Linked DNA regions of Homo sapiens. The protein of the gene in region 2 purifies or fractionates together with the protein of the main gene of each other region. This does not show direct contact. Each region holds a gene or a part of one and is shown on either strand. Other genes may lie near its edges.

What was found.
Region 1: the proteins of RNF112 (region 2) and CCDC86 purify together in Homo sapiens (affinity purification with mass spectrometry, with the first as the bait; one large-scale study listed by BioGRID). This does not show direct contact.
Region 3: the proteins of RNF112 (region 2) and SRP9 purify together in Homo sapiens (affinity purification with mass spectrometry, with the first as the bait; one large-scale study listed by BioGRID). This does not show direct contact.
Region 4: the proteins of RNF112 (region 2) and PRRC2C purify together in Homo sapiens (affinity purification with mass spectrometry, with the first as the bait; one large-scale study listed by BioGRID). This does not show direct contact.
Region 5: the proteins of RNF112 (region 2) and DHX57 purify together in Homo sapiens (affinity purification with mass spectrometry, with the first as the bait; one large-scale study listed by BioGRID). This does not show direct contact.
Region 6: the proteins of RNF112 (region 2) and KAT7 purify together in Homo sapiens (affinity purification with mass spectrometry, with the first as the bait; one large-scale study listed by BioGRID). This does not show direct contact.
Region 7: the proteins of RNF112 (region 2) and RACGAP1 purify together in Homo sapiens (affinity purification with mass spectrometry, with the first as the bait; one large-scale study listed by BioGRID). This does not show direct contact.

Annotation. Positions count from the first base shown.
Region 1 is NC_000011.10:60,847,451-60,851,581, forward strand, and holds the end of CCDC86 (coiled-coil domain-containing protein 86), read left to right. Parts: intron 1-473; coding exon 474-603; intron 604-2,489; coding exon 2,490-2,564; intron 2,565-2,755; coding exon 2,756-2,875; 3' UTR 2,876-3,631; downstream 3,632-4,131.
Region 2 is NC_000017.11:19,413,843-19,418,283, reverse strand, and holds the end of RNF112 (RING finger protein 112), read right to left. Parts: intron 4,190-4,441; coding exon 4,139-4,189; intron 3,836-4,138; coding exon 3,779-3,835; intron 3,699-3,778; coding exon 3,624-3,698; intron 3,539-3,623; coding exon of another isoform or gene 3,515-3,538; coding exon 3,397-3,514; intron 3,247-3,396; coding exon 3,077-3,246; intron 2,999-3,076; coding exon 2,945-2,998; intron 2,767-2,944; coding exon 2,692-2,766; intron 2,580-2,691; coding exon 2,109-2,579; 3' UTR 1,008-2,108; downstream 1-1,007. UniProt on the Homo sapiens protein: E3 ubiquitin-protein ligase that plays an important role in neuronal differentiation, including neurogenesis and gliogenesis, during brain development.
Region 3 is NC_000001.11:225,787,736-225,791,770, reverse strand, and holds the end of SRP9 (signal recognition particle 9 kDa protein), read right to left. Parts: intron 2,532-4,035; coding exon 2,412-2,531; 3' UTR 1,307-2,411; downstream 1-1,306. UniProt on the Homo sapiens protein: Component of the signal recognition particle (SRP) complex, a ribonucleoprotein complex that mediates the cotranslational targeting of secretory and membrane proteins to the endoplasmic reticulum (ER).
Region 4 is NC_000001.11:171,491,457-171,495,852, forward strand, and holds part of PRRC2C (protein PRRC2C), read left to right. Parts: intron 1-4,396. UniProt on the Homo sapiens protein: Required for efficient formation of stress granules.
Region 5 is NC_000002.12:38,868,924-38,873,319, forward strand, and holds part of DHX57 (putative ATP-dependent RNA helicase DHX57), read right to left. Parts: intron 1-4,396. UniProt on the Homo sapiens protein: Probable ATP-binding RNA helicase.
Region 6 is NC_000017.11:49,791,681-49,795,180, reverse strand, and holds part of KAT7 (histone acetyltransferase KAT7), read right to left. Parts: intron 3,296-3,500; coding exon 3,148-3,295; intron 1-3,147. UniProt on the Homo sapiens protein: Catalytic subunit of histone acetyltransferase HBO1 complexes, which specifically mediate acetylation of histone H3 at 'Lys-14' (H3K14ac), thereby regulating various processes, such as gene transcription, protein ubiquitination, immune regulation, stem cell pluripotent and self-renewal maintenance and embryonic development.
Region 7 is NC_000012.12:50,018,496-50,022,891, reverse strand, and holds part of RACGAP1 (rac GTPase-activating protein 1), read left to right. Parts: intron 1-1,714; exon of another isoform or gene 1,715-1,830; intron 1,831-3,085; exon of another isoform or gene 3,086-3,148; intron 3,149-4,302; exon of another isoform or gene 4,303-4,340; coding exon of another isoform or gene 4,341-4,376; intron 4,377-4,396.

The DNA.
Region 1 (4,131 bases), on a different chromosome or scaffold from region 2:
CACACTGTTCTGAAATGGAATGGGCCACCTCCCTAGGGGGTGAGCGCCCCGCCTCCAGAGGCATTCACACCCGGGCCAAATGCACTTGGCGGAAGCAACAGAACTTTACAGCAGGGGCCGCGTAGCCTGGACTCTGCAGTCGCTGACAGGATTCAAGTCCTGACTGCCACAAGGTATCTTTAGGCAGCTATTTAACCTCTCCGCGCCTTGGCCTGCTCCTCTGTAAGTGGAGAGGATAGGAGTACCCACCTCAGAGGCATGTAGCCAAGGCTTGAGAAATGGCAGCCAGCACGATCAGGGTTCCCTCCCGCCCCAAGTTTCTGCAGCCCTGGAAGGCCGCCTGTCAGGCCAGCAAGGAGGTGGTTCTGCCTGGGCTCTGGGGAAGAAGGTCCAGAGCCTCCGGCCGAGAGGAGACAGGGCATGGGTGGCGCTTGCCCCACAGACCCTGTATGCACCCACTCTCCCCCTTTCAGATTCTCCCAGATGCTTCAGGACAAGCCCCTGCGCACATCGTGGCAGCGGAAGATGAAGGAACGACAGGAGAGGAAGCTGGCCAAGGACTTTGCCCGTCACCTGGAGGAGGAGAAGGAGAGGCGCCGCCAGGTGAGGGGCCAGCCAGGCTGAGGCTGGGGCTCAGAGGACTAAGCTAGTGTCTACTGGTACAGACCTGAGGCGAGGGCCTCCACGGGTGCCTGGGGGAGGCCGACTTGGTTAAAAAACGTTCTTGAATCTGAAGGCCGGAGGGAGGAAGGGCACCTGGCCAGAAGCAGAAGTGCAATCTGGGACTACAGGGCAGGGAGGCCCAGGGGACCATACAGTTTAGCCTGGGCTGCTGAAAGAGCCTCAGGGACAGGGACGGAGGGGGAGGACCAGAAGCGGGCCTTGGGGAGAAGCCCGGGAGGAAGTCCTGGGTGGTAGGGCAGTCAGTGAGATGGGGTCGAGGGCCCTTTGCTGGGACGTACTCAGTTGGGAAGGGCTTGCAGATTTGAACTCCATGTCCCCGGTATGGCTGCTGTCATTCTCCAAGAAGCAGCCCACACACCAGCAACGTGGATGGCCCCCGCACCTTTCCTCCACTTCTGTCCCCTGTCACCCATCCCAGAGCCAGGAAGCCCCTGTAAAGGGTCACAGCCTCACCCACATCTGCCAGGGACTTTTAAGCGGGGGGAAGAGGGCACTCAGCAGGCAGCATGCAGAGAAAGCGGAGTGGCATTGGTCAGCTCCTGCCCCCCAGGGCAGGGCAGTCAGTGGGAGATTCCTCCTCCACTCCTCTAATGACCCAGGCGTGTAGGAGGAGTGCCGAACGGGATTCAGACAACTCATCCATAGTCCGTGGTCCCAGGCTGGCCACTGAGAAAAGGGGTGGGCCAGTCACTCAGTCATCTGTCCCCTGCTCTAAGTCACCCCAGCTCAGCTTACAGCTGACATCTGAGGAACAGTGTGTCCGCCACCATATGCTGAGGCCTTATCTCTTTTCCTGTGTGGCCCTGGCTCCCTCTTGGGCAAGACAGAGCTGCCGTCTCACTTCTCACCGTCCACTGCGGAGGTGCTCCTGCCCAGCCCCCAGCCCGGGCCTGCCCTGACCACAGGAGGCCAAGGCTCACTTCTCCTTCCTCCCCAGGGGCCTGGGCCACCCCTGCTACCCCAAGTCACCAAAGCCAGCAGAGACTCCTAACCATGCAGCAGCCTTGGAGCTGACGTCCCCACCCTGGCCTTGCTGAGGGACACAGTCAGCATGGCTAGAGAGCACTGGGCTTCCCCTCCCAAGACAGACTCCATCTAGAGTCTCAGTGTGCCCAAGGAGCTAGGGGCTGCTCCAAGTCCTGCACGTGCATTCCCTCATTGATTTCCCAAAACTATCTTACGAGGTAGATACTGTGGTCACTGTCACTTTAAAGATGAAGAAGCTGAGGCACAGACTTAGCTAAGGTCTCCTGTTTAGGAAATAACAGGATCCAGATTGAAACCCAGCCCAGATAGCTCCAGAGCCTTTTCTGTGCAGTGCAGCCCCTGCCCAGCCCCACACCTGTGAAAATCTCAGGGACCCAGCCCTCACCCCTAGCCTGGCATTCTGCAGCAGCAGGACTCCAGGGGAAGAGGGGGAGACTGTCGGAGAGGGTGGGAATGGGGGAAGGGCCAGCACCCCTTTCTCCCTTGGCAGTTGATGAGGGTGGCATGAGGGGTCACTGTCTGCATGTGCGTGAATCTCCAGGTGGGCACCCCCAGTGTCTCAGCCCCTGTCCTCAGTTGCCTGTCCCATACCCACCTCTCAACATGCTATCAGGAGCTTCCACCACAGCAGGCCCCTGGCACTAGACCGTGGCACAGGATTGCTAGCCCTCCACCCACACATCACCAACCTGGAGCCTGGCAGAGAGGGCCTTTCCCCTTCCTCCTGGGAATTCTGCCCGCTCGCACTCTTCTGGGGCCTGAGAGACCAGGGCTGCCTCTGCTCCCCGACTCAAATCCCCTTCTCCCACATGTTCCAGGAGAAGAAACAGCGCCGGGCTGAGAACCTGAAACGCCGCCTGGAGAATGAGCGGAAGGCAGAGGTCGTCCAAGTGGTGAGTGTCTCGTTTTCCCCCTCTGCCCTTCTGCCCCACTTGGGGGTGCAAACCAGGGCCTCGACCCCTGCCTCATGTACCCCCACTCTCATGCTACGATCTCAGGCCCCTGTGGGGCGGCCTTCCTCTCCCCTGGGAATTTGGACCGAGGCTGCAGCTGCACTAATGTCCTCCCCTCATACCACCCCCAGATCCGAAACCCCGCCAAGCTCAAGCGGGCAAAGAAGAAGCAGCTGCGCTCCATTGAGAAGCGGGACACCCTGGCCCTGCTGCAGAAGCAGCCGCCCCAGCAGCCGGCAGCCAAGATCTGAGCTCAGGACGGCCCGAGGCCTTCCATGGCCAACAACCATGTCAGACACAGCACCTCAGGCCGCTGCTCAGATGCCTCTGCTGGAGCTGGCACTCCAAACCCATGGCTCCAGAACAGGGACCCCCACCCCGACCGGGGCTCCTCGGCCTTTGAAGGCTTCCAGGCAGGTCTGTGTGGGACAGAAGCCCAGAGGGGGCCTGGGACCTGGCAGAGATGGGGGCGGGAAGAGATTCAGCTCCCATCCCTCCTTCCTCTCCTTCTCCAAGTGCCTTCAAACCAAGAACTGTACATTCTTCTGGTTCCTCAGTGAGCTGGTGACTGGCAGGTGACTCCCTCAGCAGTGTATGCCCTTTCTCAGCATCCTAGGTCCATCCCAGGCCTGGAGGCTGACAGTTGGGAATCCAGCTTCCCCCACACCTTCCCAAAGGCTGCTCTGAGCACCTCCACACCCCACTGCCTCTGTCCCCAGCAGACTGAATCCGGTTCCTCTCCACTTTTCAATACTGAAAGATTAAAATGGGGAGGTTGCAGGGAGCAGAGCTTTTCCCTAGCACCCACTTTCCCAAACCAGTCTCTGCAGAAGCCCCAGAGAATCTAACTCATGCCTGTCCAGTCTACAGCAAAAATATTTATTGAGTGCCTGTTGCATACAGGCACAATCCTAGGCACCGGCAAATACAGACAATAGACCAAAGTCCCTGCCCTCGAGGAGCTTTCATTCTGATGGAGAGAAAACATAATAAACAAGCAAAATGCACCACGTGTCCAATGGGGGAAGTGCTATGAGTAAAGGGGGAAGGGATGGGAGGGAGCAGGGGCGAGGTGTCAACACAGGGTGGCTCTGCAGCTAGCTGGGCACCTCACTGTTCCCTTTGCTCAGCACCTGCTGTGGGCCAGGCCTTCAGTGACCCTGGCCTTTGGTGGCAGAAAAAACACAGGACCAAGATCTCAAGAGTTTCTCATCTGCTTCTTCCACTGACATTTCATCCACCAAGCAAAATTCATTGACACCAACTTTTCGGTCCCTGGGCTGCAGAGCTCAAACACAGCAGTCTCTGACCCCAAGTCCACGGCAGGTGGAGGAATGAGACGGGGTGCAGTGGAAGTGATAGGTCAGAGGTGCAAGTTACCCCTCCCATCCGCAAAAGGGAAATGGTAGCTGCCCAGCCCCATGTGGCCTGGAGGCGGGGCTGCACAGATCTTGGGATTACCAGTGCCCAGAGGGATCCCACAGAACACCAGGCCGACAGGGAGGCT
Region 2 (4,441 bases):
GCCTCCAAAGTCTGGAAGGTTTCATAGCTCATGTGTCCACCAGATGACAGTGGAAGGGCTCAGAAAGATGCTTCCAGAAAGTCCTTCTCCACAAACACTACACAAAGTTAAGACCCTGTTCCCACCCTTGGCTCAGACCCTAAAAGAGAGAGTCACTCTCATTTGTCTTTACCCCACTCAACCCCACCCTGGCTTTGGGATTTCTCTACATTCTGTATTTTGTCCCCAGCCTGTTAACTATAGCTTCACTGCTGAGCCATCTGTTCTAGACCACGTTGCTGCCTCTGCCCACCACACACTTCCCTGGAGCTGGACCTGATCAGCCAGAAGAAGCATCTGAAAAGGAGCATCTCAATTTCAGCACAGTCGACCTTAACAAAATAACTTCAGGAAGTGCACCAGCTTGGGAACCAGGACTTCGGGGTTCCCCTGCTTCTGTCATCAGCAGCTGCACAGGCTTATCTGAGACTTTCTCTCTCTGGGTGTGCACCTATAAAATGCCAGGATTGGATGCAGTGACTACTGCTGTGGTTCTGAGATGGGGAGCTGGGGAGCTGGGGAGCAGGGCTGGGAGGAGAATCAGTTGGGTGAACTCCTGGCTGGCTGAGCCCTGCAGAAGTGGTCCTGGGCTTCTCCTTCCTTCAAGGCTTGACCAAGTTCTCTCTGCTTATGTATCCATTCTGTCCTCTTGCTGGGACAGGTGCTTGTTGACTGCCTGTTGACAGGATCATGGGAAGCAGTTTCTCAGAGAGGAGACAAGAGGAGCGGAACCCCAAGTCCTAGTGGAAGAGCCTGCAAAGGTGCCCATATCCACTTGGCCTTGGCCTGAGGCCTCTTGCAGCCACTGAATGGGGACCTCTGACGTTCACTTCCTTGGATCTCTTGAATTCCAATCTCCCTCTTCCCATCTGTGCATTCCAGCAATGGATCTCATTGGTTCACCTGCTCCCACCATGAAGTCATCTGAGGGTTAAATTCTGTTTCAATAATATACTGGGAAGCTGACATTCACATACACACATTTTATTTTTCATAAAATAAAGGATAATGTGCCCACCCATACCCTGTAAGTTTCATAGCCTAGAAGTCAGTTTCATAGCCTAGAAGTCTTCCTAGTAGTCAGATTTTCTGTCCCCCAGAGGGAGAACTCCCGCACCCCCAGTTCCCAGGGGGCCTGGTGTTTGAGGAGCTGCATCAAGCTGCATCTTCTTACAAGCCCAGGGGAGAAAGGATGTGTTTAAGGGTAGAAGTTGTTCATTTTGTTTTCCTTTGCAAGATTTTGATAGAATCTAGTATAAAGGCTGTCTGGCTTAGCTCAGAATGCAAGAAAAGGTGTTATTCTTTCGCATTTGGGCACTTCACAGAGGGCATGGGCACTCCCCCATCTAAACAGGCTTGAAAAAGGACACAGACCCAAGAGAGGCCCTTGCGGAGGCCCAGCAAAGAGTGGTTCAGGATGCACAGACAGGCTCTCTGGGGCTGTGGGCCAGGAGTGGGAAAGCCACCTTAGTCCTGCTGGAGCAGATTTGGGAAGGGTCATGGGAACAAGTTTCTCTGCTCTGGGGTCTGGGCCACAGTCTACCATGTCCCATCTCTCTGGTTCTGCCCAGTGTTCCTTCCTTCCTGTCATCCCCAGCACCTCATCAGTGCTCCCCGCTCCTGAACACCATGGTCAATCATCCTGGGGCTTCTCACATCTGTGAAAGAACAGGTCTCTCGACCACCTAGGGGTAGACTTCCAGGATGGTGCCTGCTTAACTTTCCTACAATCCAGGGTCATCGGGGAAATGAGCCAGGTGGGGAGGGTGGAGTCTCACTTGCAGCCAGAAACCCTGGGATGTAGCCTATCTGTGACAAGGGCAGATCGGCAACCATCTGCAACCAGAAACAGGCCGGGTGTTCTATCCACTGCCCCCAGATGCTGCCTCCCAGGTTCCAAGAGCCACCTTGAGTCCCAGCTCAGCTGCCACCCAGACACCGAGCATTCGACCAGGGCAGTGCAGTACATGGCGGTGCCTTGGAATCCCTGGCATCACCCTCCCCCGACCTGCCCCTCTTCTTCATCCCCACCTGACATCTCTCCTGTCCTTCAATACCTCCTGGGGCTGTTACTCTTCCTGGAGAAGGGGCTCTCGGTCCCCTTCCAGAAGCCTCTCATCCTCCTCCTTCTCCATGCAGCCCACTGTGGCAGCCAACCCAGCACCCACGCCACCCCCAACCACAGCGGCCCCTGTGGCCCCCACGGCAGCTCCAGCAGCCACCATCCCAGCCTCTGCAGCCAGTGCAGCTGCTGCCATGCCAGCACCCACCACGCCCCCTGCCAGGCCCATGAGCCCGGCCCCCACAGCACCCCCCACAGCAGCTAGGTGGCCACAGAAGCGCATCGTGTAGGAGTCCATGAAGGCCTTGGCCGTGGCCTGCAGCTCAGCTTCCAGTGCCTCCAAGGTCTGATCTCTCCCCTTGCAGAGTAAGGCCACACCATGGCGGGCCAGAATGGCATCTTTCTGGGTGGAGAGGAGGTTCCGCATGGTGTCTGGCAGGACCCGCAGCGCAGAGAATATGCGCTTGGTGGCTACGTCCTGTGACAGGGAGGGGAAAAGAAGGTGCCCTGACCAGGAGTCCCAGGTATCCTCTCCCTGATCTGGACCCTGCCCGGCCCACACCTGCCTCCCGTGCAGCCCCGGGGCTCACCTGCTGCCTCACATACTCCTCGAACTCCCTCTTGGCAGCTTCCACCTTCCTCAGGTCGTGCAGCTGAGCAGCCATCTGTCCACGGGAAAACCCAGGCTGCCTCCTTCCTTCCTTCTCAGCCAGGGGCGCTGCTTGTTTCCTCATCTCCACTCCCAGGGCACACAGACCCCCACCCCGGAGGCCTCGGCACAGCCCCCACCTCCCTGCCTCCCCTGTCTCCCTGCCAGAATGCTGGATCCCCCAGCGCTCATACCTCATCCGGAGAGGTGAAACCGGGCCCTGTCCTCCCCATCCATCCTGAGAGGTTCTGCGGAGATACCATCGCTGGGGTCAGGGAGAGCAGGGGCCCAGCCGAGTCGCCTGGGTCTCCAGGGAGTTTTCACACCTTGATTTCCTGAGCTAGCTGCTGCCCCGTGAGTAGGCGTCTGTCCCCCCTGGCCACGGCGCGCCCCTCGTTCCAGTACCCCTGGCAGCGGCTCTTAGCGTGCTGGGGGGCCGCACTCAGCACATCTGAGACGTAGGCCCCCAGAAGGTGGCGGAAGTCATCATCTGTGTCTGAGGGAGAGATGTGCATGCTGAGAGACTGCGGGCTTTGGGAGGAGAAGGGGTGTCAGAGGCCAGGAGAGGTGGGTGCTTCAAGGGGCTCGGTTGCCGGAGGGGAGCTGGGAGCAGCGCAAGAGAGGTTCAGCTCTCAGAGACACTCACCACCAGGGCTTGCATGGCCTTGGTTCATCCGCCGCCTCCCTGGGGCAGGCAAGAGGCAGCAACGGGCTCGCTTCCCTTGCAGCAGCTCCTGCACCTTGGGGTATCTGCCAGACAATCTCTGTGAGGCAGCGAGAGGAGTGCTCTGAGCTAGGAGGTCCAGCCTCCCATGTCTTCCCCACCTCTGCCCTGTCCATGGCCCCTCCACCCCATCCCCTTGCACCACTCACCTGGAAGATGTTGCCTACATGCCCCTGCCCTGCCTTGTTGGGGTGGGATGAGTCACGAACTAAGAGGTCCAGATGCTGAAAGAGAAGGGGTCCTGACACCAGCAAATGGGGGTGGCGGGGCCTGGGGCCAATGAATCCAGAGATAGGTGTCTCACCTGGATTGGCACCATCCCATAATGCTTGCCCATCACCTCGGCCACGTGGACAAACATCTGGGGGTGGGACACAGAAAGCGTCAGGGCTGGGCCACTTTGAGGACTATGGTGCACCCCAAGCCTGTCTCCCCACCTCCCTACGCCTGCTGTAGGAGCTAGGCTCCCCCTTTTGCAGCCTGGGGTTCTCCTGCCTCTCCCCAGACCACACATCTCTTGCTTTACTCTCCACCCTCCCCCTTCAACCCTGTTCAAGTGTCATAAAACCCTAGGCCAGACCAGGAGGGCACCTAGTTCCTTTGGGTCCAGCCCTAGTGGGGAGGGTGGGGGTGGGGGATGCCCCAACATCAGAGGTCTCTTTACCTCCAGATAGTCCAGGTCTGTATCCTTCAGCTCCTGGGAGGTGCTGAGGATCTGGAATCAGAGAGAACAACATGTATGAGAGATTACAGAGGCCGGGTGACTTCACTGGGGAAGGCCCTGGTGAGTAGGGAGCTCGCAGGCAGCCTGTGGGCCTCAGAGTATGGGAGAGGCCAGTATGGGGGCCTCGAAGGCTGCAGGGCTGGGCTGGCCTCAAGGCCGGAGACAAGCCTGGAGGGTAATGTGATCCATCAGGTCTTCAGCTGCCCCTGGGACCATCAGCCCACTTTTAGGAATAACCCACGT
Region 3 (4,035 bases), on a different chromosome or scaffold from region 2:
GAGCATATTCTATATACATCAAACGAAATGCTAAACCATCACAGCTACGCTTATGTACCACTACCTTTCTACCCCACATCCTCACGCCCTCACCTGTTTACCCTCACGTCCTTACCACCTGCTTCTTTGTTTGATCACCAATAAATAGTGTGGGCTCCCAGAGCTTGGGGCCTTCACAGCCTCCAATCTGGCACTGGCCCTCTGGACCCACTTTATGCACTTTTTTTTTTTTGAGGCCCAGTCTTACTCTGTCACCCAGGCTGGAGTGCAGTGGTGCGATCTCTGCTCACTGCAAGCTCTGCCTCCCGGGTTCACACCATTCTCCTGCCTCAGCCTCCCAAGTAGCTGGGTCTACAGGCGCCCGCCACCACACCCAACTAATTTTTTTCGTATTTTTAGTAGAGACGGGGTTTCACGGTGTTAGGATGGTCTCAACCTCCTGACCTTGTGATCCGCCCGCCTCGGCCTCCCAAAGCGCTGGGATTACGGGCGTGAGCTACCGTGCCTGGCCCACTTTATGCACTCGTCTTTTCTCATTCCTTTGACCCTGCTGGACTTTGTAGCCCCCATGGCCTGGTGTTGGGCCTGATCACCCCAACAGTGTGCCACTGTGTCCAGCTCATTTTTGTATTTGTAGCAGAGATGGGGTTTCACCTTGTTGGCCAGGCTGGTTTCAAACTCCTGGCCTCAAATGAACCGCCCACCTCAGCCTCGCAAAGTGCTGGGATTACAGGCATGAGCCACTGTGCCCAGCCTTGGATCATGATGTTTAATCTTAACAGTCTTACAAGCAAAGTACTATTGTTGGCCCCATTTCCAGAGATGAAAATGAAGGCTTAGAAAAGTATCTAGTCTAAGACCACAGAGTTAGGAAATAGTGGAGCCAGGATTTAAAGCCAGGCAGTCTGACTTGGAATGTCTGTTCTTAACCACTCTGTTACACGCTACCAGGACTCAAAGAACCCAAATGCCAGTCTCTCCTTTTCAGGTCATCTCTGTAGTGTTAAATAAGGGGGAAAAAGGTCAAGCCTCTCCCCTCCCCTGATGGTGATCCCATTAATTCTGGGGGAAAAAAAAACAAAAAGCCAAAATAATCCTATACTATTTGATGTTACTTTTCTAATTCAAGAAAACAAACTTGCTATTAACATATAGTGCAGAGAAAGTCATATAATATAAAGTACTGAGAAACAAAAAATTTGCTTTCAGCATTACTAGGCTCATTTTGGACTAAATGAATATAGTATATCCCAGCTCAGAAATCAACAATTTCTGAAAAGTTAAAAACTTCAACACAAACAATATATATTTTATCTAATATTTTATTTACTGATCTCTCTGAAACATGCCAAAATTCATATAGCTAAGGGAACTTACCATGCTAAAATGCTGTTCAACATGACAAATTTATACAAAACATATTTCAATGTAGTGCCTTCATTTCATTCTTGAGGAATCAACATTACATTTAGGTGGTGAAATACAAATATAATTATCAAATATCGTACTTCTAGTTTACTGGAAAACATAACAGTTGTGACAGTCACACCTAACACCTTGGTTAATTAAAGACAGAAAATGGGCAGGGGTGTCACAGAAGTATGCAAGGATTTGACAGTTCAAACTAATCCATAGCCCTTCTGAGAAACTACAGATGGAAAATATGTAGTAAATATTTCTGTAATATGGTGGTTTCAGTACATTATAGCACAGTGATCATCATTCCATTCATACACTCAAATAACTGCTGCTTCTGATCACTGAAAACTAGATTCAAAGTCATTGCTCAACAAGCTGATACTACAAATCCCTTATATTAACAGGTAGTTTAAATGTGGAAATAAGGCAAAGCATACTTGTTAGTCACAATTACTTTCAGATATAATTGAGACTACACTGCTATACATAATTAGGTACACAGTATGTATAACAATGCATACTATGGTGTGGAGTTAATTCCAATTACCATATTTTATATTTATTGGTCACAACAGCATACATTTTATGCTCCAAAATACATGGATCTGACAAAATGGTTACATTTAATGTTCTTTTAAAGAAAGATGAACTAAATTTAAGAAGAATTGGTTTTTCCTAATATCTCATTTTCAAATTACTGATACAAATTTGCCAGAGAAACAATTACATGTTTTACCTAACATCAAATAATCTCCAGTTTCTAAGACAGATGCATTTCTTGTTCAATTTCCAAAAGTAAATAAAGGCTTTCTAACTGAAAACATTTGCATCCCTAGCTCTCTAAAGTAATTAAAAAGAAAATTACAAAAAATGACCTCTAAGCTTCTGAACAGCCCACTTAGTTACATAAAGTACTTTCTGTCCCAACACTTTCTCTAATTCAAAAGATATTTACTTCCTAAGTACACGACAAAGTCTTCATTTCAAACCATTCACTCAGTTTCCATGGTAACATTGCGGGCTTCCTTGGCTACCATAAGTCGCATTAGTTGACTGTGGAATTTCTCAATCTTCTTTACATCTTGAGCTTGGTCTGTTTTATACACCAAACACTGTCAGAAATTTTAGAAGTACATATTAACTATATAAAACTAGATACTGACAATGTAGAAAACATACAATTGGGTAAAATTTTGAGAGTTTTTCCTACCACTGTTTTGCTCTATTCTCCTTGGAGGTCGTACTAGGGAAATTGCACTCAAGTTTCCAAGCCTCCAGCAATTCCATGTCTTAAAGTACAGTAATTTAAATGCCACTGCTGTGGACAAAAAACTGAATGAAGTCTATTAGAAGCTTCTGAAAAATGTTAAATGTTAAATCCTGCTATGGTCTGATGAGAAGAACTCAAGACTTAGAATTAGATATTTTCTTCCTTCGAATTAGGTATTAGATTATCTCCCTACATATTTTCTCCCAGCCATAAGTAACTGAGTTATGCTGGAAAAAAAAACACAGAAATCTTAAGATCTCTTTTTCTACTGGTGAAATTGGGGGTTTGATAATAATTTTTAGAAAAAAATCTAGAATTCTCTGTGTATAGCTGGTCAACACATAAACCAGGTAAATCTTGATTTTCTTGGCCAGGCGTGGTGGCTTACGCCTGTAATCCCAGCACTCTGGGAGGCCGAGGCAGGCGGACCACCAGGTCAGCAGTTCGAAACCAGCCTGGCCAATATGGTGAAACCCCGTCTCTACTAAAAATACAAAAATTAGCTGGGCGTGGTGGCGTGTGCCTGTAATCCCAGCTACTTAGGAGGCTGAGGCAGGAGAATCGCTTGAACCCAGGAGTGAGGGCTGCAGTGAGCCAAGATCATGCCACTGCACTCCAGCCTGGGCGACAGAGTGAGATTCCGTCTCAAAAAAAAAAAAAAAAAAAATCTTGATTTGCTGAAGGTATGTATTTTTGAGACAGTGTCTCACTCTGTGGCCCAGGTTGGGGGTGTAGTGGTGCAATCTCAGCTCACTGCAACCTGCGTCCTGGGCTCAAGCGATCCTCAGCTTCCTGAGTAGCTGGGACTACAGGCACACACAACCACACCTAGCTAATTTTTCTATTTTTAGTAGAGACGGGGTTTCTCCATGTTGCCCAGGCTTGAAGATATTACTTTTAAATCAAACCAAATTCTTCCTTGTTAGCAGTTAAATTCTTCACTAGATACTTAAGATCTGCTTATGGTTGGTCATAAAGCCATCTGTTGTAGAATCTTCAAAAACAGCAACTTTAAGCTGGCAGCCCTTTCCTCATTTTGTAGTACAGATCCACTTTTCTTCAGCCCATCTTAAAGGTTCACATGAGTTTTAAACAACAGGAACTAATGATCCTATAATAAAAGTCAACAACTTAAATAACTTGAAGTTCAACCTCATCATGCCCAACTGATTTTTTTAAGTGAGCCTTTTAAACAACTCACTTAAAAAAATTTTTATCCACGCATTGTACAAATTTGTGCGGCAATCTTGTAAAAAGGCCATATTAATCTTCATCATCAAAATTTTAGCACATGTCCTATGAGAGAATGTACATACCTTCTCACTGAAATTTCTGACAGAAAAAGA
Region 4 (4,396 bases), on a different chromosome or scaffold from region 2:
GCCAAAAGTGTCTGTATTTCCCCAGAAGGATGTATTTTTCCTAGTTACATAAAGGCCCTATGGAGAGCAATGGATGCTCTGAAAGACTCCTTAAGGAGACATATTAAGGATACATTTAGAACAACATCAAAAACAATTGGGAAATTGGAGAAATGGTCACTAAGGAACAAAAAGCTTTGAACTTTTTGCTGAGATGGGTTAGGTGGTTGGGCAAGTACAGAATTCTCATTTATCCAGTGTACTTTAAAGATCTGTATTGTAGCTTATTAAATATTTTTATTAATCAAGAAACTATATTAAATATCATAGTTTATCATATTTCAAAGAAGAGTGATAAGAGTAAAACAATACTTAACACAATTTAATCTTACCCAAAAACTTTGTAATTTTGGGGTTTAAATTAAAATTTAGATTTTTGGTCATGTGGCTGGTAGTTTTATATATAAGTAACTTTTTAATGTTAGGTTTTATAATTAAAGCTATATAAATTTTATAGCTCTTAATTGAAGAAGCACAATAGGGAAGGTACACAGTTACTTCTGAAGGTTAGGAAAATGGAACAGTGGCATTTTATTTTGAAAACAGAGGACATTGAAAACAAAGGAGGCTTTAGACAGGTGAATTTTAAGTTTATATTTGGAAATTTGATTTGTGGTGTACAGTTCTTTAAGTTTTAGTACGTATGGATTTTTGTAGCCCCCACAACTAGGATACAGAATGTAGAAAGATAAAACATCTCCCAACTGTAGAACTAGAGTCTTCTGGCATTTTGGAGACAGGGAAATTCTCTTGAAGAAATAACTATTAAAGAGGGATGGAAAAAGCCAAGAATGGCCTACCCATGCTGAATGATTTGTTTTCTGATTAGAAAGAAAAAATATTTTGATTATACTGTTATATTTATGACAAACTTGAACATAGAAAGAATGAAAGTAGGAGAAAGAAAAAGAAGGAGTTGGGTGTTGTGGCATGTGCCTGTGGTCTTAGCTACTTGGAAGGCTGAGGTGGAAGGATCTCTTGAGCCCAGGAGTTGTGGAGGGTAGCGCACTGTGTTCTACATATGGACTGAGTGTCTGCACTAAATTCAGCATCAATAGGGTGTCCTGGGAGTGGGGGACTAACAGGTTGCCTGAGGAGGGGTGAACTGGTCCAGGTTGGCAACAGAGCAGGTTAAAACTCCCATGCTGATCAGTAGTGGGATAGCCATTGCACTCCGGCCTGGACAACATTAAGGTGACCCTGTTTCTTATTAAAAGCAAGAGGGTAGGGGAATTTTTTTAATTTTATTTATTTATTTATTTATTTATTTATTTAGAGACAGAGTCTCTCTCTGTCGCCCAGGCTGGAGGCAGTGGTGCGATCTTGGCTCACTGCAACCTCTGCCTCCCAGGTTCAAGCAATTCTTCTGCCTCAGCAGCCCGAGTAGCTGGGATTACAGGTGTGTACCAGCACACCTGGCTAATCTTTGTATTTTTAGTAGAGATGGGGTTTCACCGTGTTGGCCAGGCTGGTCCTGAACTGACCTCAAATGATCCACCTGCCTCGCCCTCCCAAAGTGCTGGGATTACAAGGCGTGAGCCACTGCGCCTGGCCGGGGAATTTAAATAAAATAAAATAAAATAATAAAAGAAGAGAAGGAAGGAAATAGGTTTACATGTCTTAAGACTGGATATTTCAGTGGTAGAAGAAGAGGGCCAATGATACGGAGGGATGTTAACCAATTCTCTACACTTAATAAATTTAAAATTAATATTCTGACTTTTAAAGGCAACCCTTTGGTCCTCCAAAAGATTAACCATAATTCATAATGCTAGATGAGCATCTTGGAGCAAGTACTTCTCTTTCACTCTCATAACATTCAACATACTTTGGCCTTGCAAAAAACAAAGTTCAATTAACTGGATGGGGTGGCATGTACTTGTAGTCCTAGCTCCTCAGAAGGGTGAGGTAGGAGGATCACTTGAGCTCAAGTTCAGGGTTGCAAAGTGATGGCACTGCTGCACTCCAGCATGGGTGACAGAGTAAAACTGTTGAAAAGGAAAATAATAAATAAAGGTTGACTAAGAAATTATCTATGCTTTGGGCCTGAAGCGATGGCTCACCCTGTAATCCCAGCACTTTGGGAGGCCAAGGTGGGTGGATTACTTGAGGTCAGGAATTTGACACCAGCCTGGCCAACATGGTGAAACCCCATCTCTACTAAAAATACAAAAATTAGTCAGTTGTGGTGGCAGGCGCCTGTAACCCCAGCTACTCAGGAGGCTGAGGCTGGAGAATTGCTTGAGCCTGGGAGGCGGAGATCCTACCACTGCACTCTAGCCTGGGCAACAGAGCAAGACTCTGTCTCAAAAAAAAAGAGAAGAAATTATCTATGCTTGGGTTTTTCTTTTTAATATATTAGTTTTGCAAATATTGATTACCACTTAATAAGTTTTTGTTACAGGCTTTACACTATTCTAAGAGCTTTATACACACTTTGTTAATTAAATCTTATAATAGTATTGGAGTAGATATTATAGCCCACCCAGGTGAGGAAGTAAAAAATTTGAGATTAAGTAATTTGCCTGTGGTCACCTAGCTACTAAATATTAGAGCTAGAATTTAAACAAAAACAGTTTTAAGAGAAACAGTTGTGTAATTTTAACAATTTTAAAATACATAAGTTGTTAAAAAGAATGCCCTGGCAATCACCTCATTAAGTAATCGGTAGACAGAACAGCTGTACTTTTTAAGGACAGCAGTTTTTAGTACAGAAAATTTGATAGCTACATTTCTGTTCTGATTGTTAAGGCTTTATCCTACTCCGGAAACTTAATTCACATGTTTCAGTTTCCAGGAACAGCCTGAGCCCTTCCACTATCCTGATTAGAACTCCAGCAGATTTATTTATATTACACTTTGTTTTTTAAAAAATGACCATTTTGGATGTTTTTGCCGAACTGCTATTTGTAGTAAAAGAATTCAACATATGGTGGTATTCTTAGCTTTACTATTATAGTGGCAAATGTACTCTTAAAATATTTGACCTTAGAATTACTAGTTCATTTTAACTACTAGAAATGGAAGAGACCTTGTAAGTGGCCAATTCAACTTCTTACTCAAAGCAAGAATTATCTTTATAATATTTCTGACAGGCTTACCTTGCTTTTGCTTGGATCCATCTGATGATTAGTAGGTTACTACAGTCACCCCTTAACATTCACAAAGCATATGTCCTAAGATCTTACAAATTTCCGTATTTAGCATTCAAACCTCTTCACTTTCGCCTTCCGTGATCTACACTAGGATTTGGCCTCCTCTTCACTGCTCTTCCCCACCCTGCCCCCCTCCCTCAAGAAAGAAACAGATTTCTCTTTGTAAGAGTTATTGTATCCCCTAAAAGAAAACAAAGCTCTGGGCCTGGGGTCTCAGCATTAGGAGTGGTGAGGGATATCCAAGCTTATTTTCTAGATGCATACCTCATGGCATGTTAGTTACATTTTGTGCTTTAGCAAAATTACACGTCATTTCACAGCTCTTTGGGTTATTTGGCAAATTGTTAAAGTAATGCTATAAGTTTTAGTTTAATGTAACTTACTCACTTATGGATAAACTGAACAGTTTTTCCTTTGCATTCAGTCGTTTGTTAATGTTTGTCTTCATGAAGCCTGGAGTTGAGCATAATACTCTAAACATACTGTGACAAACATAAAATTCAGTGGAACTGTTATGACTCCAAATCTGTGCATTAGATTTCTATTAAAATTTTATAAAGCAGTATTGTCACACTACTAGCTGTCACAGCTAGAACCTTTTTCACATGACAGTCTGGGTCTGTATTCTGCATTTATGAAATCCAGTTTCTGAACTGTTAATATGACTGTATAACTAATTGTTTAATTCTGCCTAGCATTCTAAGACCTTTAAAAATCTTGGTCATGGAATACATTGGTACTCCTTCAGATGTATATATTATTTCATATGCCATGTTTACTTTCCAAGTCTTTATTCAAGTTATTGACATGGAAAAGGACAGGGTCCAACATATCCAGGCCAAATTATTTCATATTGACCACATTCTTTTAAATATAAAATGATTTTCTACTTCAAACATTGTGTGATTCTCATTTGTATTAAGTTTATTTAAGGAGAAGTATGTAAATGACTAGTACTTTCAGTAGTCTTAAAAAATCAAGTGGATTGAGGGAAGGAAGTGACTAAATTTTTTTAAGGTTTATATTTTGTGGATGCTGATTCACTTGGAACTAGGAGTGTGGTGAATATTTGGGCTTTTTTATTTTAAATGGGCAATTTAGTTAAAATTTGAGTGATAAAATTCTGGTTTTTGAAGTTAATGCATCAGTCTCCCCTCATCATAGTTCAGGCTGCCATAACAAAATAGTATAGACTGGATGGC
Region 5 (4,396 bases), on a different chromosome or scaffold from region 2:
CTGGAGTAGCTGGGACTACAGGCGCCTGCCACCACGCCCAGCTAATATTTGTATTTTTAGTAGAGATGGGATTTCACCATGTTGGCCAGGCTGGTCTCGAACTCATGACCTCAAGTGATCTGCGCACCTCAGCATCCCAAAGTGCTTGGATTACAGGTGTGAGCCACTGCACCCAGCCTAGCATAGGATTTTAAAAATCCAGTTGAGAAGTTTTCATGTATTTAATATATGTTTTGACAAAATTTAAATTTATATATGCTCTATCAGGAACACAGCTTGGGCTCAGAGATTCTGCCAAGGGCAAAAGGGAAGTAGGCCGTAAGACAGATAGCTCCTAATCTTTTTCCAAAGGACTGACTCCATTTACAATGGAGTGTGGAGAAGTTCAAACCTAAAGGTGCTTTCAAGAATAGTGAGGTTGTGGGGAAAGGGAGATTACAGGATTAAATGAAGATGTAGTTTAGACTGTTGGCCAACTAGTTTGCAGGAAGCAAACCAAGGAATAAGATCACTAGGAAGTTCCTTTTTGGGATTAGAATGAGTATTAAACTGGGATCTCAGAAACTATTGCTTCAAAGAAGCCATACTTTGGTTGGATTAGTTTGTAAAGGAATTTACTCTCCAGAGCATTGTTGAAAACAATTCAGCAATCAACCATGGGCATACCTAAAGCTGTACCTCCCAGAGGAGCAACAACAGAGGCTTAAAATCGTAGGAGGGAAATAGACTTCACTAAAATATTCTAGCCAGTCACTAAAAATTAAACCAGCAAATAACAATAAGAAGCCCCTGAAAGGGGAGAATCAGTACCCAGAGTTGTTACAGTATGTTATCCAAAATGTTCAGTTAACAACAAAAAAGTCACAAGGCATGCAAAGAAACACTTAAGTATAACCCATACACTGGAGAGAAAAAGCACAAACTGCCTATGAGTGAGAACAGATGTCAGATTTAACAGAAAAGGAGTTCAAAATAGTCATTATAAGTATGTTCACAGAAATAAAGGAATGCACAATTAAAGCAGTAAAGGAAGGTATGATGACAATGTCATATCAAATTGAGAACATCAATAAAGAGATAAAAAATTATATATATAAAAAGAACCAAATGGGAATTCTGGAGTTGAAAAGTATACTAATTGAAATTAAAAATTCACTAGAGAAGCTCAACCATAAACATGAACTAGCAAGAGAAAGAACTGATGAACTTGAAGACAGACTGACATTGATTATGCAAGCTGAAAACAGAGAGAACGATAAATGAAGAAAAGTGAACAGAGCCTTGGAAAAATGTGGGACACCATCAAGGGTACCATATACATATAATGAGAATACCAGAAGGAAAGGAAAGAAAGAAAAGAGCAGAAAAAATATTCAAAGAAATAATGGTAGAAAACTTCTCTGATTCATTAAAAATCAATAACCTCTACATGCAGGAAGCTCAATGGCCTCCAACTATTAGAAAATAAACACAGAGATGCACAAAATAGACATGTTGCAATAAAAATGTTGAAGGTCAAAAGACAAAGAGAAAATCATGAAAGGAGTAAGAGAAAAACAACTTATCACTTACAGGGGGGAACCCCAATAAAATTAATGACTGATTTCTTCACAGAAACAATGGAGGGCAGAAGGTAATGACATATATATTTAAAATACTCAAAGAAAAAAATAGGGCTGGGCGTGGTGGCTCATGCCTGTAATTCCAGCACTATGGGAGGCCAAGGCGGGCAGATCACGAGGTCAGGAGATCGAGACCATCTTGGCTAACACAGTGAAACCCTGTCTCTACTAAAAATACAAAAAATTAGCTGGGTGTGGTGGCACACACCTGTAGTCCCAGCTGCTTCGGAGGCTGAGGCAGGAGAATCACTTGAACATGGGAGACAGAAGATGCAGTGAGCCGAGATTGCGCCACTGCACTCCAGCCTGGGTGACAGAGTGAGACTCCATCTCAAAAAAACAAAAAACAAAAAACAAAAAAAAAACAACAAAAAATAGTTAACCAAAAATCCAGAAAAGCTATCTTTCAAAAATGAAGGTAAAATGAAAACTTTCTCAGACAAACAAAACTGAGAGAATTTGTTGTCAATAGACCCGCCTCACAAGAAATACTAACAGTTCTTCAAGTTGAGGCAAGTATCCCTGGATGGTAATTTAAATCTACATGAAAAAACAAAGAGTACTAGTAAAGGTAATTGAGTAATTATTTTTAAAAATCCACATTTATATTGGACATTTATTTATTTGAAAACCAGTACAAAAGTATTGTCTCTTCTTTTCTCTGAAATGATTTAAAAAGCAGTTATATAAAATAATATGTATATGATATAATGTTGGGCATGTCACCTACAAGAAGGTAATATGTATGTAATATATTTGCCAATAACAGCACAAAGAAGATTGGTGGGAGCGTAATTGTGCTGTGCTGAGAAAATGACTACAGACAGTAAAGTAATACTTGTAACAAGTATAGTTGGGTATATAACATTAATAGATATAATATGTATAACAATACTATAAAAAGGAGGAAAGGAATAGAGCTATATAAAAGTAATACTTCTATGTATCTGTCTTAGTCTGTTTTCTGCTATAACAGAATGCCACAGACTAGGTAATTTATAAACAACAGAAGTTTATTTGTCTCATGGTAATGGAGGCTGGGAAGTCCAAGAGCATGATGCTGGCATCTGCGTAGTGTCATCTCATGGTGGAAGATGGAAGGCAGAAGTGGGCACGATACAGAGAGAGGTACCAGCTGCCAGACTTATTTTATAATAACTCATTCTTTTTTTTTTTTTTTTGAGACAGTCTCACTCTGTTGCCCCAGCTGGAGTGCAGTAGCGTGGTCTCAGCTTACTGCAAGGTCTGCCTCCCTGGTTCATGCCATTCTTCCACCTCAGCCTCTGGAGTAGCCGGGACTACAGGTGACCGCCGCCGGCTAAGTTTTTGTTTTTTTGTATTTTTAGTAGAGACAGGGTTTCACCATGTTAGCCAGGATGGTCTCGATCTCTTGACCTTGTGATCCGCCTGCCTCGGCCTCCCAAAGTGCTGGGATTACAGGCGTGAGCCACCGCGCCCGGCCTAATAACTCATTCTTGCTATAACTAACCCACTCCCATGCTAGTGACATTAAACCATTAATAAGGGCTCTGCCCTCATGATCGAATTACCTGTTATTAGGCCCCATCTCCTAACACTGTTGCATTGGAAATTAAATGTCTAATACATGAACTTTGGGGGTAAACATTCAAACCATAGCAATATTGCTGGAATTAAGCTAATATAAATCTGAAGTTGTTCATAAACCCCAAAGCAATCACAAAAATACTACATTAGAAAATATTCACTTAATGACTAAATGCAAATGAAAGCATAAAGTAAGAACAGAAGAAAAAATAGACATTGAGAAATACAGACATCCAAAAGTAGAATAGAGTTAGATGTAATTCTCAGTATATAGACAATAAAAATAAATGTGAGAGAATAAAGCAGTCCAATCAAAAGACAGAGATTGTCAGACTTGATTAACAAACAGGATCCAAATATATTCTGTCTGCAGGAGAGGCACTTTAAATTCAAAGACACAATAAATGAAAAGTAAAAGGATGGAAAAAGATGATCTTGCAAACAGCAACTACAAGAAAGGTGGAGTGGCTATGTTAATAGCTTACAAAACAGACTTTAAAGCAAAAAATATTACTAGAGATAGGGATATTTCTTAATGATAAAAGGGTTAATCTGCCAGGAAATGATAACAATTAAAAACACATATGTACCTAATAATAAGGCACCAAAATACACAAAGCAACAACTGACAGAAATGAAGGGAGAATTAGACAATTCAATAATAATAGTAGGAGACTACAGTACCTCACTTTTAATGGTAGAACAACTAGACAGAGGATCAACAAGGAAATAAAAGACTTGAACAACACTCTAACCAACTAGACCTAATAGGTGTCTATAGAACACTCCACCCAACAACGAACTATACATACTTCTGAAGTACACATGAAACATTTTCCAGGATATAGACCATACTAGGTGATAAAAGAAACCTCAATACATTTTTTTTTTTTTAAGACAGAGTCTTGCTCTGTCGCCCAGGCTGGAGTGCAGTGGCACAATCTTGGCTCACAGCAACCTCCGCCTCCCAGGTTCAAGCGATTCTCCTGCCTCAGCCTCCCGAGTAGCTGGGACTACAGGCACCCGCCACCATGCTCCCTGACTAATTTTTGTATTTTTAGTAGAGATGGTGTTTCACCATGTTGGTCAGGCTGGTCTCGAATTCCTGACCTCAGGTGATCTGTCCACCTTGGCCTCCCAAAGTGCAGGGATTACAGGCGTGAGCCACTGTGCCCAGCCATAAACCTCAATAAATGTAAAAAGAAAGA
Region 6 (3,500 bases), about 30 Mb from region 2:
CAAACACTTGTCATTTCTTTGTGGTGAGAACAGTCAAAATCCTCTCTAAAGTATATTTTATTTTAATTAATTAATTTTTTTTTCAGAGGGCGGGATGCACAGGCCAGGGCGCGGTGTCAGCCTCACTCTCTCACGGCTGCACCCCCCAACGTATATTTAAAAAAAAAAAAAATCTGAAGAAATCTTATAGATTCTCTAAAGAAGAAAACTGAAAATTTCCAAACTTTCGGGTGAGAAAAGTTAGCACAGAGCAAGGTTATCCATTTGTACATCTCCAAGGGGCCTCCTTTCACAATATGATCTACCTTGTGCTCTAGGGAGGACCACCTTACATTGCTGACATTGTAAATGGTACCCCTGGAGTTGTGCAACTCTGTGGTCATGAGGTATGATAACCAGAAAGAGACTCAGTGCTTACGCATTTCCTAGCTGTTTTGAATATTTAGTTTTCAGGTGTCTAGGGCATGGTCAATTATACTTCCTACAAACATTATGTCTTTTCCTTAGCATATGCTGTTCCATCTGCCGAGAATAACATATTCCCATCTTTCAACTTGTAAATTCCTATCAGAGCCTTTAAGACATCTCAGTGTGCAGCTGGGCACGGCGGCTCACGCCTGTAATCCCAGCACTTTGGGAGGCCGAGGCGGGCAGATCACTTGAGATCAGGAGTTTAAGACAAGCCTGGACAACACGGTGAAACCCTGTCTCTACTAAAAATACAAAAAATAGCCAGGTATGGTGGTGCTCGCCTGTAATCCCAGCTACTTGGGAGGCTGGGGCAGGAGAATTCCTTGAACCCAGGAGGCGGAAGCTGCAGTGAACCAAGATCATGCCACTGCACTCCAGCCTGGGCGACAGAGCGAGATTCTGTCTCAACAACAACAAAAAAGACTTCATCATTGTGGGAGTGCTGCCCTAAGTTGGCTGTCCCACCTCTGGGCTTATGTAGTACTCTATGCAAACCCCTCTCACAGCCCTTGCCATAATGTATTCCCATGATCAATTTTCATATCTGTATCTTGCACTGAACTGTAAGATCTTTGAGGACAGGAACTATGATTTTTCTATCATGGTTCCTAGTACATAACATACTGCTTGAGTTATAGTAGCTATTTATCCATAGTCTCATTGTGGTAAAAATTTAAAGCTTAAGAAATCAAGAGACAATAGCAATACTTTAGCTGAAATCCTAAATTCAAAAATAAAGTTAGGAACAGTTGTTAAAGAGGATATTCCCACTTTCTTGCTTGAAAAACTGATGGTTTTTCTCTCATTGTGCAACATACTCATATAAAAGTGACCAAAGCAGCAGGGCGCGGTGGCTCATGCCTATAATCCAAGCACTTTGGGAGGCCAAGGCAGGCAGACCATGAGGTCAAGAGATTGAGACTATCCTGGCCAACATGGTGAAACCCCATCTCTACTAAAAATACAAAAATTAGCTGGGCACGGTGGCGTGCACCTGTAGTCCCAGCTACTTGCAGGCTGAGGCAGGAGAATTGCTTGAACCCAGGAGGCGGAAGTTGCAGTGAACCAAGATCATGCCACTGCACTCCGCCTGGCAACAGAGCTAGACTCCATCTCAAAAAAAAAAAAAAAAAAAATTAACCAAAGCAACACTGTTGAAGTGCTCAAAACATGTTAAAGTTTTTTTCCCTTCATCTATTATCACCTGTTGATCATCGGCTTTCTGTATTAGCTGCAACCTTCTTTCCTCCTCAGGGAATACCAGAGCAGAGCCAGGAGGGTCAAGGGTACCCTCCAAATCTAACCCCAGATGCCTAAATGCACTAGAGATAGTTCAAACTACCTTCCAACCCCAAGATTCTCAATTCCTTATTACCAAAGCAAAATTCCATTATTTCCACACTGATATTTTGGTACAACTATTAATATCTATCAAGTGTTTATTGGATTACATTCCAGAGTTAAACATGGTTTTAGAAGTGGGCCTCTGCCAAGAGTAAGTCCAAGAGACTACAGATGCTCCTTGACTTGTAATGGGGTTAAGTCTCAATAAAACTATCATAAGTTGAAAGTATTATAAGTTAAAAATGCATTTACAGGCTGAACATGGTGGCTCACATCTATAACCCCAGTACTTTGGGAGGCCAAGGTGGAAGGACTGCTTGAGTCCAGGAGTTTGAGACCAGCCTAGACAACATAATAAGACCTCATCTCTACAAAAAACAAAGAAAACTAGCTAGGCATGGTGGCGTGCACCTGTAGTCCCAGCTACTCAGGAGGCTGAGGTGGGAGGATCACTTGAGCCAAGGAGGTCAAGGCTGCAGTGAGCCAAGATCACACCACTGCACTCCAACCTGTGCAACAGAGCACAAGACCCTGTCTCCAGAAAATAAAAAAAACCGCTATACACCTAACCTACCGAGCATCATAGCTTAGCCTAGCCTACTTTAAATAGGCTCAAACCACTTACATTAGCCTACAATTGTGCACAATCATCTAACACAAAGCCTATTTTTAATAAAGTGTTGAATATTGCATATAATTTATTAAAGACAGTACACTGAAGAGTACTGGTTTACCCTCATGATCAAATGGCTGACTGGGAGTTACGGCTCACTGACTGGAGTTATTATGGCTCATTGCCACCACTCAGCAACATGAGAAAATATTTGGCCCACATATCACTGGCCCAGGAAAAGACCGAAATTCAAAATTCTAAAAGTTTCCACTGAATGCATATTGTTTTAGCACCACTGTAAAGTTAAAAAAAAAAATTAAATCAAGCCACCATAAATCAGATACCATCTGGACTTCAAGTCCCTAAGCCTCAAACATTCAAACAGAAAGTGAAGGGATAACATTCCAATTTTACTGATGGAGACACTGCGATCTAAAAAAACAAACAAACAAACAAACAAATGACTCAAGACATACGTGTGTCTCTATCCATTATACCATCCGCAGTTCCTTTGGGTCTACAGATTGGATAGTAGCCCCCCACAGAGGCATTGTTAAAGACCTGACAACTCTGCATTCACTCTACATTTTACCAATCATCTGGTGCACTGTCATCTACACCAAGCCAAGGGGCCAGTTTCCACATTAACTAGGAAAATAATGTGATGGGCCAGTCAGCCAGATGTGAGGAGTGGTAAGGAAAAATGAAGGTTTTTTTACCTTGAGAACTCTGGCTTAGCCTGGCTGAGGAGCGGGTGACTCGAGCAGATCGTCGGGATGTGCCATCACTTTCTGAACTGTCTGTGTGCTCGAGATCTGTAGAAAAATCGGAATCTTCGGTTCCATCTGAACTACTGCCTGCATTCCTCTGTAATACCATAGATCCAGATATTAGCACAGAAGCATTTGGTCTGAGAGTTTGCATTAACATTGAAAATAAAACAAGCTGTGACACTGAAAACCCCAAGTTCAAACCTAAATAAGGATTCCACAAGCATTTCTCATCCTCCCACCCCCTCAGGCAACTTCACTTTATTTAGAACACTTAAATGGAACAACCTACAAATAGGGAA
Region 7 (4,396 bases), on a different chromosome or scaffold from region 2:
AGTAAAGATATTTGAGGTGAGAGAGTGACCATGCAAGAGATTCCAGGCAGAGGTAAGTGAAAAACTGGAAATGACCTAAACGTCCAAAGAAGAGAATAGTTAAATAGTTGTTCATCAACTCTTTAGAACTTAATGGAAACATGATAGAAGCAAAACACAAAATTATATGTAATGTATGATTGTAACACCATGAAATAAGAGTGTAAAATGGGCAAAGATTAGATCAGATGGTACATATAGTTGTTTAGGATAGTGAGATTTTTGTTTTGCTATTAATTTTTTGTTTTTGTTTTCGTTTTGTTTTTTTTTGAGACAGAGTTTCACTCTTGTTGCCCGGGCTGGAGTGCAATGGCGCCATCTTGGGTCACTGCAACCTCTGCCTCTCGGGTTCAAGCGATTCTCCTGCCTCAGCCTCCTGAGGAGCTGGGATTACAGGCATGCACCGTCATGCCTGGCTAATTTTGTATTTTTAGTAGAGACAGGGTTTCTCCATGTTGATCAGGCTGGTCTCAAACTGCCGACCTAAGGTCATCCACCTGCTTCAGCCTCCCAAAGTGCTGGGATTACAGGCGTGAGCCACCACACCTAGCCTGTTTTACTGTTAACTTTTTGAACATAGAAGATTAATAATAAACAGTATTTTTGTATCTGCTAAATGAATGTTATAGATAATAAAGGAAATCATTTTGGACTGAAATGGTTAGGGAAGGCTTCAGTGAATTGGTGAGACTTATTCTAGACCTTGAAGGATGGAAGACCAGAATAGGAAGAATTCACAGGGAAAAAAAGAGGTATTCAGTATGCTGAACTTCTAGTAATTTTCTGAAAAATCACAATTCAAATCTTCCCTTCCTTATTTTAGTCTTCATGTTGGATTGAGAACATTTTGTTTACTCTCTGCAAGTGATTTGCTTATAAAGAACATTTGGTTTCAAGATAATCCTTCTGTCCGCCAGTTGTATTAGAGACTTTCGATACAGTGAAGCAGAAGCTGGACATTTCAGGAAAAGAATTGTCCTCACATTGTCCTCAAATGTGTTCCTATGAAAGGATCTTAAAGTACTGAGATTATCTTTGAGAATGGTTTTCCTTGACAGCAGGGAATCTATATTGTTGATTTCTTGGAAATCTCCAGATTTAGCAATGTTTGTGGGAAAGTTTTTCATTAAAACACTTTCCTGAAAAACTCCAGCAACCTTTCATTGCTTTGTCTTAAAGTATTTAACACCCTTGATGCATCTAAAAAACCTGATATATAGGTCTCTTAATAATGTTGTTTGAAGGAGGAGGAAGAAGAGGATAGAGACTTTTCCCAGGATACCCTGCAGTAAGATCTGTAATAGTCTGTTTTTCTGAAGGATGATATCTACCTCTTGGCTGGGTGATTGAAATTAAATTGGGGGCTCAAAGCAATCACATCCAGCTGAGACTCTTTCATGGTGTTTCCAGATTGCTCCCTTAGGGATACTCACAGATTGGGAATCTGTAACATACTGACTTCTCCACCTCTGGGGTTCCCCATCAATAACAGCTGAGATTCTCTAGCACCTTTTGGTTTAAAGTGCTCCACAAACTGAGTTTCTTGCTGCACGCAGGGATCGTTTCAGCTTTCCCGAAAAGGCAGCAGTCTCTGTTGTGGAAAGTGACAGCTGTTTTACAGCTGCAAAAGCAATGTACTACAATATGACTTTGTTTTTGTTTCCTTTCACATTAGTGTATCTCCTAGCTATGGACTAAATAATACATGGGGGGAAATAAACAAGTATTCATGAGGGTGAAAATGTGACCCAGCAGGAAAATTACAACTATTTTCAATTGACGTTGAATAGGGTGAGTAAATTTTAGCTTTTTGAGTTACAATTTGGCTGAGATATCAGAGTTAGTACTGATATAGAAAGATATTTTTGTCATCTATAAATAATTCCTGAGAGTCACTTCTGTAGAATGTTAATAAAAATATATGGTCCCCTAGCATATAAAGAGAAGAGGATTATATTCTGCTAGTGCCATTTTTGGATTACCCTAAGTAAATCTATGTTAGAGGAAAAAATAACTCTTCAGAAGCAGCAAACCTCATCTAGAACAGCTTGTTTAAAAGCCTAGACCTGGCCAAATTTTGCTGTTTCCTTGATTCTTCTTGGTCTGGGTTCCAGCTATAATTTGTGTTTTATATGTGTTGCTGTTTGTATGACATGTTATGGTTTGCAGGAGGTCTCTGAGTAGGTCTGCAACATATATGGTCTAATTGATATTTTTGTAACTTATCTCTTCAATGTGTTGGGTTGGAGAGAATATAGATTTTGGACTCAGACCTGGGTTTCAATGAGAACTCGACATTTATTGGTTAATTTAAGGTTTCTGGACTTAGTTGCCCATTGTCTGTAAAATGGAGATAATTAAGTTAGTGAGGCCAGGCATGGTGGCTCACGCCTGTAATCCCAGCACTTTGGGAGGCCGAGGCAAGCAGATTGCTAGAGGTCAGGAGTTCGAGACCAGCCTGACCAACTTGGTGAAACTCCATCTCTACTAAAAATACAAAAAAAAAAATTAGCTGGGCCTGGTGGTGGGCACCTGTAATCCCAGCTACTCGGGAGGCTGAGGCAGGAGAATCACTCGAACCCTGAAAATGGAAGTTGCGGTGAACCGAGATGGTGCTACTGCACTCCAGCCTGGGTGACAGAGCAAGACACCGTCTCAGAAAAAAAGTCAAATTCACTTAAAGAAAAAGTGTACGTGAAGTGTCTAGTTTAGTGCCCGAATCATTTCAAAGCACCTAGTAAATACTGGATTCTTTTCTTTCTAATTGTATAGTATTATTTTTAAAAATGGTCTAAAATTCTGAATTTACTGATATCCTTATTTGGAGACAGCCTAGGGGGGAAAACACCTAGATTTGAGAATCACTGTTTTAGGATGGAAGTAACAACTATCAGACCAAAACCAAACCTAAACAAAAGAAACTCACTTCATACCAACTAAAAGATACCTTATATTTTGGTAGTGAGATTGTAAACTTATACATTTTAAAATTTTTGTAATATTCTATGAGGTAAATAGAGCAAGTGTTATTGTTTTCACTTTATAGATGAGTCATGGAATTTAAGTGATTTACTGAAGATTATACTACTGGTAGATAGAAGAGCTAAAGGTTTGTCCCAGGACCTTTTTATTTATTTATTTATTTATTTATTTATTTTAAGAGAAGGGGGTCTTGTGATGATCAGGGTGGTCTCAAACTCCTAGACTCAAGTGATCCTCCCACTTCAGCCTCCTGAATAGCTGGGACTACAGGCACGCACCACCACACCCATCTTGTCCCAGGACTTCTGCTCCCTCTCCCGCTTTTAACTGTTCTTTTTGCTTTAAACTATATTACACGTTGATGTTGAGGTAGAATGGAAATTCTTTTGACCATAGCATCACAGATATGTGTGTGTTTGTTCTCTGAATTAACACTTATCAATTTTTTTTTGTGAGCATCATATTAAATGCTACATGCTTGTGTGTGTAATATAGTAGTGCCGCATGTAAGGTTTCTCCCCTCAAATTTATATTCTAGCTGGGACACAGGGCAGAATCATATGGTAAAGTTTAATTCAAGTGCAAAGAGTTTGTATCTGAGTGGCAACTGCCTGAAGCAGTAGGGGAAGGACTGGAGGAAGGGAGTGCAATTGAAGTGAGTGGTGACAACCTGCAAGTGATAAGGGGGTGGGTATGGTAGATACATGAGAGAAGAGTACACAAGGTTTAGTGATTATGCTGTGGGAAGGGGAGGAACCAGAGGTGATTCTGAAGTTTGGAACTGAGCGACTGAGAGAATGATAAAAATAGGGAAATCAAAATTGGAAGTCAGTAGGGTATGGGATAGGGTAGGTCAGTGAGTAGCGTAGTTGATGGACATGAACAGGAAGAGTAGAACAGTGTCAGGAGGCTGAGGCCGGAGAATCACTTGAACCTGGGAAGCAGAGGTTGCAGTCAGCTGAGGTGGCGCCAGTGGACTCTGGCCTGGGGGACAGAGCAAGATTCTGTCTCAAAAAATTAAAAAAAAAAAAATGGACAAGAGAACAGGTTATATTGTAATTTAAGACTTAAAACCCCCCCTAAAAAAGCTTTTTTTTAAACAACCAGTTTTCAACATCCTAGCACCATGAAATTTTCCTTTTTGAATTCTTGGACAGATAGAAGTTTTGCCGTGGTATTGAGCTGTCTTATAGTCTCACGATATATAAGTGAATGCCGAGATGATAGAAAGTAATACCTTATATTAAAACTACTGATTAGAGTCTTCCATTTTTACCTCAGGAGAGCCAAAGGAAATCAACATTTGAATTGACTACCCAATGTCCTGCCCCTGTTTCTGTCCTGTAGCACTTAGGGTATGTTGCCTATTTCATTA